Regions from separate parts of the Homo sapiens genome. Here region 2 is linked to region 1. The links come from fine-mapping of genetic effects on plasma protein levels. Region 1 holds a variant in brackets. A gene starts in the other region. All regions are shown on their forward strands.

Region 1 (5,381 bases):
CAATTTCAGAACTTGTTATTGACCTGTTCAGGGATTTGACTTCTCCCTGGCTCAGTCTTGGGAGGTTGCATGTGTTCAGGAATTTATCCATTTCTTCTAGATTTTCTAGTTTATTTGCATAGAGATGACAGAGTCTTGCTCTCTTGCCCAAGCTGGAGTGCAGTGGTGTGGTCTTGGCTCACTGTAACCTCCACTTCCTGCGTTCAAGCAATTCTCATGCCTCAGCCTCCCGAGTAGCTGGGACTACATGTGTGTGCCACCACACTTGGCTAATTTTTATATTTTTAGTAGAGACTGGGTTTCACCATGTTGCCCAGGCTGGTCTTCAACTCCTGACCTCAAGTGATCCATCCAACTCGGCAAGTTCTCCATTTTGATTCATCTCTTCATTGGCTGCATTTCATTGCAATATAGTTTTCAAGAAGATATTAGAGAACTATGTTTTCCATGTCCATTGGATAAGAATGTCTGATATTTCCTTTATAGTCAAATGACATCTTGGTATGGCAAAACATGTGTAGGTAATTAATTTTTCTAATTTCCCTTAAGGAATATCTATAAAGAACTTAGGAAGAAGCGAACATAGGCTAATCCCAGTTTTCCAACATCACGTCAAGTTGCCTAACTTGCAATGTTTTCAAAGACGTATTTTTAGAGAATTAGAGAATGTTACCAAATATATAATGAAAAATATCTCTGTAGCCCAGTCCATCTTCCATGATTCAAGTGAGCCTTGGACAAGATTTAAACATCCTTATCTATACTGATTATCTGGGAGATGCTGGAAATGTCAAAGGCTAATTGGTCTATAAAAGAATTGATTCTCCAGCCGGGCGCGGTGGCTCACATCTGTACTCCTAGCACTTTGGGAGACCGGGGGGGGGGGTTGAATCACGAGGTCAGGAGTTCAAGACCAGCCTGGCCAAGACGGTGAAACCCCATCTCTGCTAAAAATACAAAAAAAAAAAAATTAGCCAGGTGTGGTGGCAGGCACATGTAATCCCAGCTACTCGGGAGGCTGAGGCAGGGAATTGCTTGAACCCAGGAGGCAGAGGTTGCAGTGAGTCGAGATCGTGTCACTACACTCCAGTCTGGGTGACAGAGTGAGACTCATCTCAAGAAAAAACAAACAAACCAACAAACAAACAAACAAAAACGAAACAAACAAACAAACAAAAAGATTTGATTCTCCTTAGGTAAGATATTTGAAAGGGCCTTTTCCAAGTCTTTCATTGTTTGAGCTGTTGTCCAATAGTAGGATTCAGGGTAAATTACTTGCGAGTTTAAATCATACTGGCAGCTTGTCTTGCCTTCAGGGCTCAAGTAGAAGATCTTTGTCATGACACACACTTTTTTAGTGTAACCACCAATTTTTGCCAGCTTCTGTTTTAAAGTTTGGGCAGTTTGTGTAGAATAGTCTTTAAACTCCTCATCCTGTACCATGTGGAAGGTGTATAGGACTGGAGGCTTGTCCTGGGAAATCAGAAGAGCATCACAGAGGACTTTGTGGTTCTCTTGCAAGCCCAGATCCAAAGACCAGCTCCTAGAGAAGATCAGTGAGCCCTTATTGACAGAGCCCATTTCTTCACATATTAATTGCTTAAGTCCTTCATGTTGTGAGAACAGATTTCTGCAGAAGGTTTTTGGAGCACAAGTTATCTTTTCTGATAGCCCTAGATGGGGAAATAATGATAAATTATAAAAGACTGAGAACTTCCAACTTAAGCCATGGATACAAAGCAGCTTGTATTAGATTAATTCTCCCACCAAAAGCAACTATAAAAGCTATGTAAAAGTGTATCAGGGCCAGGCATGGTGGCTCACACCTGTAATAACAACACTTTGGGAGGCAGAGGCAGGAGGATCACTTGTGCCCAGGTGTTCAAGACCAGTCTAGGCAACACTGTAAGACCTCTTCTCTACAAAAAGGTTACAAAGTTAGCCAAGCATGGTAGTGCATGCTGGTAGTCCCAGCTACTTGGGAGGCTGAGGTGGGAGGATCACTTGAGCCCAGGAAGTTGAGGCTGCAGTGAGCTGAGATCATGCCACTGCACTCCAGCCTGGGCAACAGCATGAGATTCTGTCTCAAAAAAATTCTACATATATATATATTTTTTTAAATTTATATATATGTATATATATATATCATAAAACTATAATTTAAAGGACTGGAGAGCAACCAATACAAGCAGGACTTAAAGGGCTACAATCTTTAATACAGAAGAATCACAGGAAGTAGCTTCACATTCACCTCTGCTTTTTCCCTAAGGAGATTTTCCATATCACAGCATGGGTAAATAGAGCCCATGCAGAAATCAGCAGTTTTACTGGGCTAAAGAAAACAGAGGTCAGACTTCAGGGCTGCCAGAGGAGCTGGGATTTCAGAAACAAAATCCCAGAGAAGATGAAACTGAAGAGAAGAAGCCAAAATCTACCCACAAATTTCCCTCAACTCACTGGCTAATACAGGTGAGATGCTAGAAACACAGAAGAAAATATCAACTAGGGCTGGGTGTGGTGGCTTATGCCTGTAATCCCAGCAGTTTAGGAGGCCGAGGCAGGTGGATTGCTTGAGCCCAGGAGTTTGAGACCAGCCTGGGCAATATGGTGAAACCCTGTCACAAAAAGAAAGAAAAGAAAGCAAGGAAGGAAGGAAGGAAGGAAGGAAGGAAGGAAGGAAGGAAGGAAGGAAGGAAGGAAGGAAGGAAAGAAGGAAGGAAGGAGAAAATATCAACTGATCAACTGGGAGATTAAAGAGCT[G/A]AACATCACTTTCATCAGCCTCACGGTGCTCAGGAAACACAAATTGTAATTCAACTCCCAGCCAAGTAGAAGGGTCTTGGTAAATACCCCAGACTTTAAGACCCCAGAAGAGCCATGACCTAGTAATTAGTGCAAAATTAAAAGCTACTATACCTAGAAAAGCATAAAACAAAACTTCAAAAGAGTAAAAGTTATCACTGGTGTTCTGTCTGCCAAAAAAAAAAAAAATGTGTAACCCTATCTGAAGAAATGTAACATCTACTAAAGTCTCTACAATTTGTAATCCATAATACTATACAAAATTAAGAGACAGGATAAAAATCAGAACAAATTACTAGAAAATAAGAGAAAAACTGGATTATAGAAAAAGACTGGCAAGTGCTTCAGACATTGGAGTCATCAAAGAGGGACTTTAAAATAACTGTTACATCTTTTTTAAAACCCCCCAAAAATAAAATAGGTGAAAAGATGAAGATGTCCTGATCCTCTTACAGGCTCAGAAAATTGAAATCAATGGATAAAAATCATCAGGGGTTTGGTGGTCTTAAGCCCCAGTTTGTTCAAGGGTCAGTTGTATGCAGTAATATCCCAGAGGTGGCGATCAGCAGGTGAAACTGAGTTTTCAGTAACTGGATCTAGGAAAAGTGGTTATCCACATGGGATAAAATGAAATAGCCCCCTACATCACCGTTTATGGATGTGGATTACATATTTAAATGTTAAATGTTAAGTGCAAAACTTTAAAATTTTTAAAAGAAAATAAACAGAAATATCTTTATAACCCCGGGGTAGGGAAGGATCTCTTACACAAGGCACAAAGAGCACTAAACCACAAAATTTTTAAATGGCAAGTTTGACTATATCCAATTTAAAACTGCTAGGGAGAATATGCCTTGGGAAAAGAGAAAATGCAAGTCATGAACTTGGAGAAGACGTCTGAAATCTGTACTATCTGTGACTAAACGAGGATTTTATGTTAGAATCTGTGAATTGCTCCTAGAAATCAGTAAGAAAAAGATAAAGCCTATTACAAAAATGAGCAAAAGACAGAATCGCCACTTCATAGAAGATAAAATATCTTCTATGGGAGATATTTTCTTCCATGTATATACCCAAATAAATACCGATTTGACTGAGGAAGAAAAGAAGTTCAAGAGAAAAGAAGTTCAAGTAGAAAGATGAAGAGAGAAGTCTGGCATTGGAAAAGATGTGGCATTTCCAATATATTGCTGGTGGAAGTAAAGTGAGCTATCTACTTTGGAAATAATTTGACATTATCTTATTACTTAAATATTCACACACTGCCTGAACGAACAATTCTACCCCTACTTAGGCACCTAAAGAAATAGAATTTGACAAATTCAATGACTAAAAACACCAAAGAATTTCCATAAACAAAAGAATGTGCTTCCATAACAAATATCAAGACAGAGCTGGTTTGAAGAGAAGGAGGTTTGAACACAGTTACACCAACAACTCCACGGAAGCCAGAATTAAATTACCTGGAAGGTGATATCTCAGTGGCTGAATTTTGAAGTTAATATATTCACGAAGAGGATAACTCTGGGAGACAGGTGATGATGTACTTGCTGGAGAGGGCAGTTCCTCACATACTATGGAATAATGTTAGAAAACAAAAATCACGCTCTTAATTTGGCATGGGAGAGACTCAAGCTAACTAATGCACAGTATACCAAACGTCTACTTAGAACTGATCCTGCATTCCCAATACAGAACATTAGATATTGTGGTTACATATTGTGGTTAGATTCCTAGGTCAGATACAAATTGTAAAATTAACTCTTGATGCTGCTGAAACACTCTATACTTGGAAGGAAAATTAACAGTAAAAATGCATTGATAGCAATTTAATACATTGCCATATAACTGAGTTTATTTTAAAACAAGTTAAAATTAGAAGAATGTGATGGCTAGTGAAGGAAAACTGGGTTTTATGCAGATTCTGAGGAACAAGTTTGCATTTTCAGAGATTTTGTAAGTTGCTAGTTCTGGTCTAATCTCACTGGAGGCTTTCCTTTTCCAAAACCAGATAAAATATCAGCATTATTCTTCTCTTATTGGTACAATTTAGGTTACTCTTTGGCTCATAAATGTGAGAGGAAGAGGGGAAGTCTTTACAGGAAATAAATGGAAAGTGGGTAAAGAAAGATGAAAGAGCAAGCAAGTAAAAGAGTAAGTGTTCCCAAAAGAAAGCAATGGTTAGTTACAGAAAATGAGCCCTGAAAGAAAAACGAAAAGAATTGAACAGGCTTTCCTTGAAAGTGAGTAAAGAAATGGTAGAGAAGAAACATCTAGAATCTTTGCATCAGATAAGGCTACTAAGAGTAGATATTTAGTTATTGTATGGAATATCTATCTTCTAAGTGTGCAGAAGAAAACAAGAGGCAGGGAAGTATTGGTTGTATCCACCAGAGATGTTGAAATTTGAAGACTTTTAATCTTGTCCCTAATCCCAAAGATACAATAAAACCTTCCTGCCACCCAAGCCAAAGGTATCCTTATTGCCAATCCTCCTTCCTCAACCTGGTTCTGAATCCACCATGAACTGGATCCATTCCTTCTCGGTCAACTGCTTAACTCTGTTATCTTTCACGTGCCAG
Region 2 (5,381 bases), not on the chromosome of region 1:
TCAGACAATCTAGGGCAAGAAAACTTAGAAAATTCTCTCTGTCCATTCCTGGCCTCAGCAATAGGCACATCAAATTCCATCAGACTATGTAGAACTTCTCACTTAAAGATTTCCAGGAAGAACTTTACTGTCAGAAAATGCTTAGCCAGGCATGGTGGTGCATGCCTGTAATCCCAGCTACATGGGAGGCTGAGGCAGGAAAATCACTTGAACCTGGGAGGCGGAGGTTGCAGTGAGCCAAGATTACACTCCAGCCTGGGCAACAGAGCAAGACTCCTTCTCAATAAAAAAAAGAAAAAAGAAAGAAAAGAAACAAGAAAATGAAAATGCTTCCTAGTATTTTGCCTGACTCTGTGTTTCACCGTGAACTCCCATGTTCTGTCCACAGAGGAGATGAGAATGTGTGACCTCTTTTTCTGTTGAGGGAACATTGAATAATTTCCAGTTTTTATCTATTACAAATGATGCTGCTATGAGCACTCTTGTATATGTTTTTTCAGGCTTATATGTATACATTTCTGTTTGACATTTACCCAGGAGTGAAAATGCTGAGCCATCAGGGATCCCTGTGTTTAGTTTTGGTAGATTCTGCCAAGCCATTTTCTAGTGACTGTACCAATTTATATTCCCACTAGTGGTGTACAAGAGTTCTAGTTTCTTCACATCCTCACCAATACTCAGTAGAGGATTGCATGGGGAGGGTCACGGGCTCCCCCAGACCCAGCTCAGTCTCAGCTGGTATCACTCCCTTATTCTTATGGAAGGTGTAGTGGTATCTTATTATGGTTTAAATTTGCATTTCCACGGTGATTTATGATGTCTAGCTCCTTTTGCTATGTTGATTTGACACGTGGATATCTGCTTCTGTGAAGTACCTATCCAATTATTTTTGCCCATTTTTCTAGTATGTTGTCTGTCCTTTTCTTACTGACTTGCAGAAATTCTTATATTTCTTCTGTGGGCCCTTTGTCAGCTACATGTATTTAAACTATCTCATCACACCACAGCTTGCCTGTTCCTTCTCTTAATGGTGTCTTTTAAGGAATAGTTCTCAAAATCATACTGACAGTCTTAAAAGCCTCAGATGCCGAAGCTCCATCTGTGTTCTACTCCAGACTCATCGATGTCTGATTCCCTCCTGAACTGAGGATCCTGTGAAGCATCCTCAGGGCTCCACTTCTCCATCGCATTGCAGCATCCACACACATTTACCTCTGGAGACAGGAGCTCCTTGGAAGCTGGGAGGTCACTCGGTGGTCAAGGGGTAGATGATCTTAGTTTTACAGTGCTGCGCTGTCTCCCAGGCTGAATGACGCTGAAGCCAAGCAAATTCGGGCAGTCTCTGGACCTTTCTAATGGAGGTGTCCCATAACCATGTTCCATCCTAGTTCCCTGGCATAGGCTTGTTGAAGCTGCAGAAAATGTCAGGGATTTATTAGTGATTTACCGACTCCTTCATACTTAGTGTTCAGGAAAATTTATTCATGTAATACTTCTTCAACCAAAGAGGAAATATCAATTAGAGCTTTGTAAGTTTCTTTTCCACTTCCTATTTTGGCTATCAAGCTATAGCACCACCCAGCTCAGGCCACCCACCCACCTTCGGTCCTGAGGCCTGGTTGCTCTCTGCCGGCTTCGCCCTGACCTGTTTCTGACCTGTGTTCCCTCCGCTGTGCCAGAACAGGCCCCATGCTGCTCTGGACGGCTGTGCTGCTCTTTGGTAAGTCAACGAGCATGGGCATCCCCTCTTGGAGCACTAAGGACCGTAAGTCATCCCTGAGACACCAAGTTCCTCATCTTACCTTTCCCAATTCCAGTGGGTTTGTGGCTGGAGCTCAAGACAGGTGTGTGCACCTGGGCATGCTTGGGAGAGATGGGCACTGGGGTAGGAGAAACTCCTCAGTGTTTCCTACCCCGTAGTCCTGGGTCCTTGGCAGCGCAGCCCTTTGATATGTCAGAGATAAATTAGGGAGGCAGAAAATCACATTACAAAGTCCCCTAACTTCCCAATGACATTTCTACCTTGTGACATCAGGTTAAAATACTAATCAGAGCTGTCTCAAAAGGAAATGGAGGTTGCAGGAGGGAAGGAGGCTGCTGGGGGCAACAGGGAAGGAGTCAGGGAAATGAGGGGAAACAGTCCCAGGCATTTTGCTCAGCAATGGGAGGTGGAATTTTACAGGGTGACATATTTTTATGGAGCCTCAGCATTTTCTTAGAACCAGGTAACAATGGCCAGACCTCTCACCTGGTTGAAAGGCCTGTGCTCTGAGTAACCAAAGCCCTTTTCAAATTGACTGTCTCTCTTCCGCCTACATCTTCTCTCTGTTGGGAGCTGTTTCAGATCCATGGGGCTGGTTTGAAGAATCAACTCCATTGTCTGATCCATGTCTCTCTCTCTCTTCTCTCCATTTCTTCTCATGCAGGCTACTTGTAACTAAGAGAGCTGGTCTAAGGGTAGAGGATTGCACGCAGAGGGTCACTGGGCTCCCCCAGACCCAGCTCAGTCTCAGCCAGTGTCACCCCCCTTATACCTAAAAGAAATAATTTGGCATATATTTTGTTTCACTTTACAGTTTCCAAGTGGACCTACTTTTTGTTTAATTCTTGGTCCCAATAGCTTGCTTGCTATTTGTATTCCTTGAACTAGAAAAGCAAAACTGTTCCTAAATATAACCTCTTCCTGGACAGAGTTTGTGAGAATTTGACCCTGTGAGGAAAATGCCCCTTCCACTCAATGTTCCTTCTCCAGCATAGCATGCTACTCGTGTGTTCTATGAATGGCCATTTGGACAAATGAAAAGGTCTAATGCTCACACTGAGGCGGGGACAGGATAGCCTAATGCCTGGATATACTCCAGGCAGAAGACTCCCAGGGGCAAATGGCACTACCGGCACTACCTTGTAAAAGGAACAGCCCTTGGACTTGTCTAGATACAGTCTGAGAGTGTTCCAGCTTGGAACCCAGGACGAGGATGACAGACAGCAAATGAGGAGAGGAAGGGAATCAGTGACCGGCTGACTGGTGCACAGTGTAATGGAGAATCCAGCACCAGCAAATTTGGTCCCACTTGATGCTCAGGGACCCTGGAAAAACAGCCTAAAACACAGACACTGGGGCTGGGTGTGTAGCAACATTTATCTTACCATAAGTGTAGAGCTGCTATTTCCTCTCTCAAGAGCAGGGTGTGGTCATAATAAATTGGTGGCTATTACTATTATTGGCTGTCAGGGCTCCGGGAGGAAAGGAATCCTGACATTGAGCATGTGGGGACCTGGCTGAATGTGAAATATGTATTTAAAGTTTGGGAAATTAGGCTTAATTTTCTTCTGAGCTGAACATTAGCCAACTTCCCTCCTACCACTGGAGGCTGCTCCCCGCATTCTCACACAGCGTCCATAGGAGGTGTCATGGGGTCCCATACAGCCCTCCCAGCAATGTGACTGCTGCAGCTTGGCACTGCAGCCTGTTCCACAGTGCTAGAGCTCAGTGGTGAGAGAGTTCTTCATGTTGAGCCGAAATCTGCCTCCATGATCCCTCTAGTTTCCATTTCTGTCCTATAAAGTAACTCAGAATAAGTCTCCCCCTTCTTTTAAGCTTAGCCCACCAAGTATTTTGTGTCTTTCCTCTGTTGCATCTTTCCCAGATAAATATCTCCCGATCCCTCAGAAACTTTAAGAGGAAATTATCCTGCTCCTAGAGTTGGCAGGGGCTCCTGCCTTCATTTTTCGGAATTCTATTACGCAACTTGGTTTGACCATAGCTCTTGGCCACTTCATGATACTGTCACCTCATCTTCAGCCTATAGCTAATGGAGGTCCCTGGGCCCTCATTGCAGGAACTGCTGTAAGCAGGTGTCACCCCCTGTGTATGTTCCCAGTTGGCTGCTGTTTTGATTGCAGAAACCAATTTTGTAATCCCACCTCCAAGATCTTGCAGTACCATGGGGAGCAAGTCATTGAGATTTGGGGACAGGAGCTCATTTTAAGTGCATCTATGCTTCCTGAGTGCCTTCTGTCTTGTTTTTGGCTTCAGTAGTCTCAACCCTGTTTGTTTAGCACTTTGTAGCTGCACAATTGTTTTCCAGTGAGGTGGGGAAGGGAAGGAAGACATAACTACAGAGTAAGGTCTCTGTCACTCTGAGGTCAGGCCTTCTTTCTGCTTTCAGTTAATGTAGTAACCACTTTCCCAGGCAGTGGGTCAACATAACCTTCACAACTACACTGTAAGAAAAAAATGACTATTATCATTTCTATTATGTGATATGACAGAATGAGATATTGAAGGCTCTTGGAACTTAGACAACTTGTTCAAGGTCGTACAGAAAGAGGCAAATTCATGACTCAAGTCCAGGTCATCTGATTCCAAATCCTGCATGCTTTCCACTACACCGAGCTCATAGATGGGGGTTAGGGGTGGAGATGGAGGGATGATAAAGAAGAGACTCATTGTTCTGCACACTCTTGAGAGCATATGACTGAGCTGACCCTGAGCTGAATAGAGAATTGAGCTGAAAGATTCCACCTGTGTCCAAAGTAGTGTAGAAAGCAAAGATGATACCATGTGACAGAGCCAAACATCTGCTCTTAGAGGGTTTTCACCCACCCTTCCCAAGGCCATTCTTGCATTTTTTTTTTGGTGTTATGTAAAATACCTAGGACATGCCAGCAATGCAGGACACAAGTAAATGTATGAGGATTGGCTGGACTGACTGCACTCAGCCCTACATTCATTCATTGTTTCACACCTTGCCCCAAAGTCCAGAAGATTCTTCACTGCTTCATATCCAGCTATGACCTTCAATTTCAGGTCTTCCATTGTTTGGGCTATTCAAACCTATCTAACCATATCTGTCATCATTTTGTGAGTTGGCCCCTCTTCCCAGGTCACCTGTTCTCACACATTCACTCATTTAAAAACATGAATGTAGCACATCCAAGATGCAAGCATGATGTGGGATGCATCCAGTTTGTTTGTAGTTCTCTCATTCATCCATGCTGCCTGATAATGTCTCACATCCTTTAATGATTACTCTTTCAGGGGACTTATCCTCCTCAGTCTGGTCACTTCCATACCCTTTTTGCCAGAGCTCTGTGGAGAGATGGGACCACAAGAATCAGGTCCTGCCCTTGCTATATGGGTTCTCCTGTAGATGTTGGAGGTAGGACCCTCAGGCACATTCGTACAAGAGTCTAGTCCTATGTTTTCTACTTTTTGCTTCCCACCTCGTACAATGGGATGCAAAGGAAAACATTCATGCATTTATTCAGCAGATGCTTACTGAACACAGACTATGTTCCAGGCACAGGTCTTGGGCATAGAAAATATAGCAATGAGTAAAATAAGCAGAGTCCCTGCTACTATGGAGCTTATATTCTAG

Alleles and levels. Alleles are on the strand shown, and positions count from the first base shown. The strength of an association depends on the size of the effect and on how common the allele is.
With allele G in place of A in region 1, the plasma level of the protein whose gene starts at base 1,625 in region 2 is higher (weak association).

What was found. PIP is the posterior inclusion probability: the model's chance that the variant is causal. Protein levels are from antibody-based Olink assays in UK Biobank. Linkage for the fine-mapping came from a reference panel and not from the study's own genotypes, which makes the PIPs less certain.
Region 2: FCRL6 starts here. The variant in region 1 is fine-mapped to the plasma level of the FCRL6 protein (UK Biobank, PIP above 0.99).

What each region holds. Positions count from the first base shown.
Region 1 is chr17:35,473,813-35,479,193 of GRCh38, forward strand. It overlaps SLFN12L (schlafen family member 12 like), which reads right to left. Exons shown (of 5, transcript NM_001363830.2): 3 at 5,305-5,381; 4 at 4,263-4,373; 5 at 1-1,673. The coding sequence ends at 1,111. Among named protein-coding and RNA genes, the nearest start is that of SLFN13, 28 kb to the left of the region's middle. The variant G/A (reference allele first, on the strand shown) is at 2,761.
Region 2 is chr1:159,800,736-159,806,116 of GRCh38, forward strand. FCRL6 (Fc receptor like 6) reads left to right here and starts at 1,625. Exons shown (of 10, transcript NM_001004310.3): 1 at 1,625-1,720. The coding sequence starts at 1,690. LOC105371464 (a long non-coding RNA gene) reads right to left here. Exons shown (of 3, transcript XR_922195.2): 1 at 1,803-5,381; 2 at 1,213-1,412.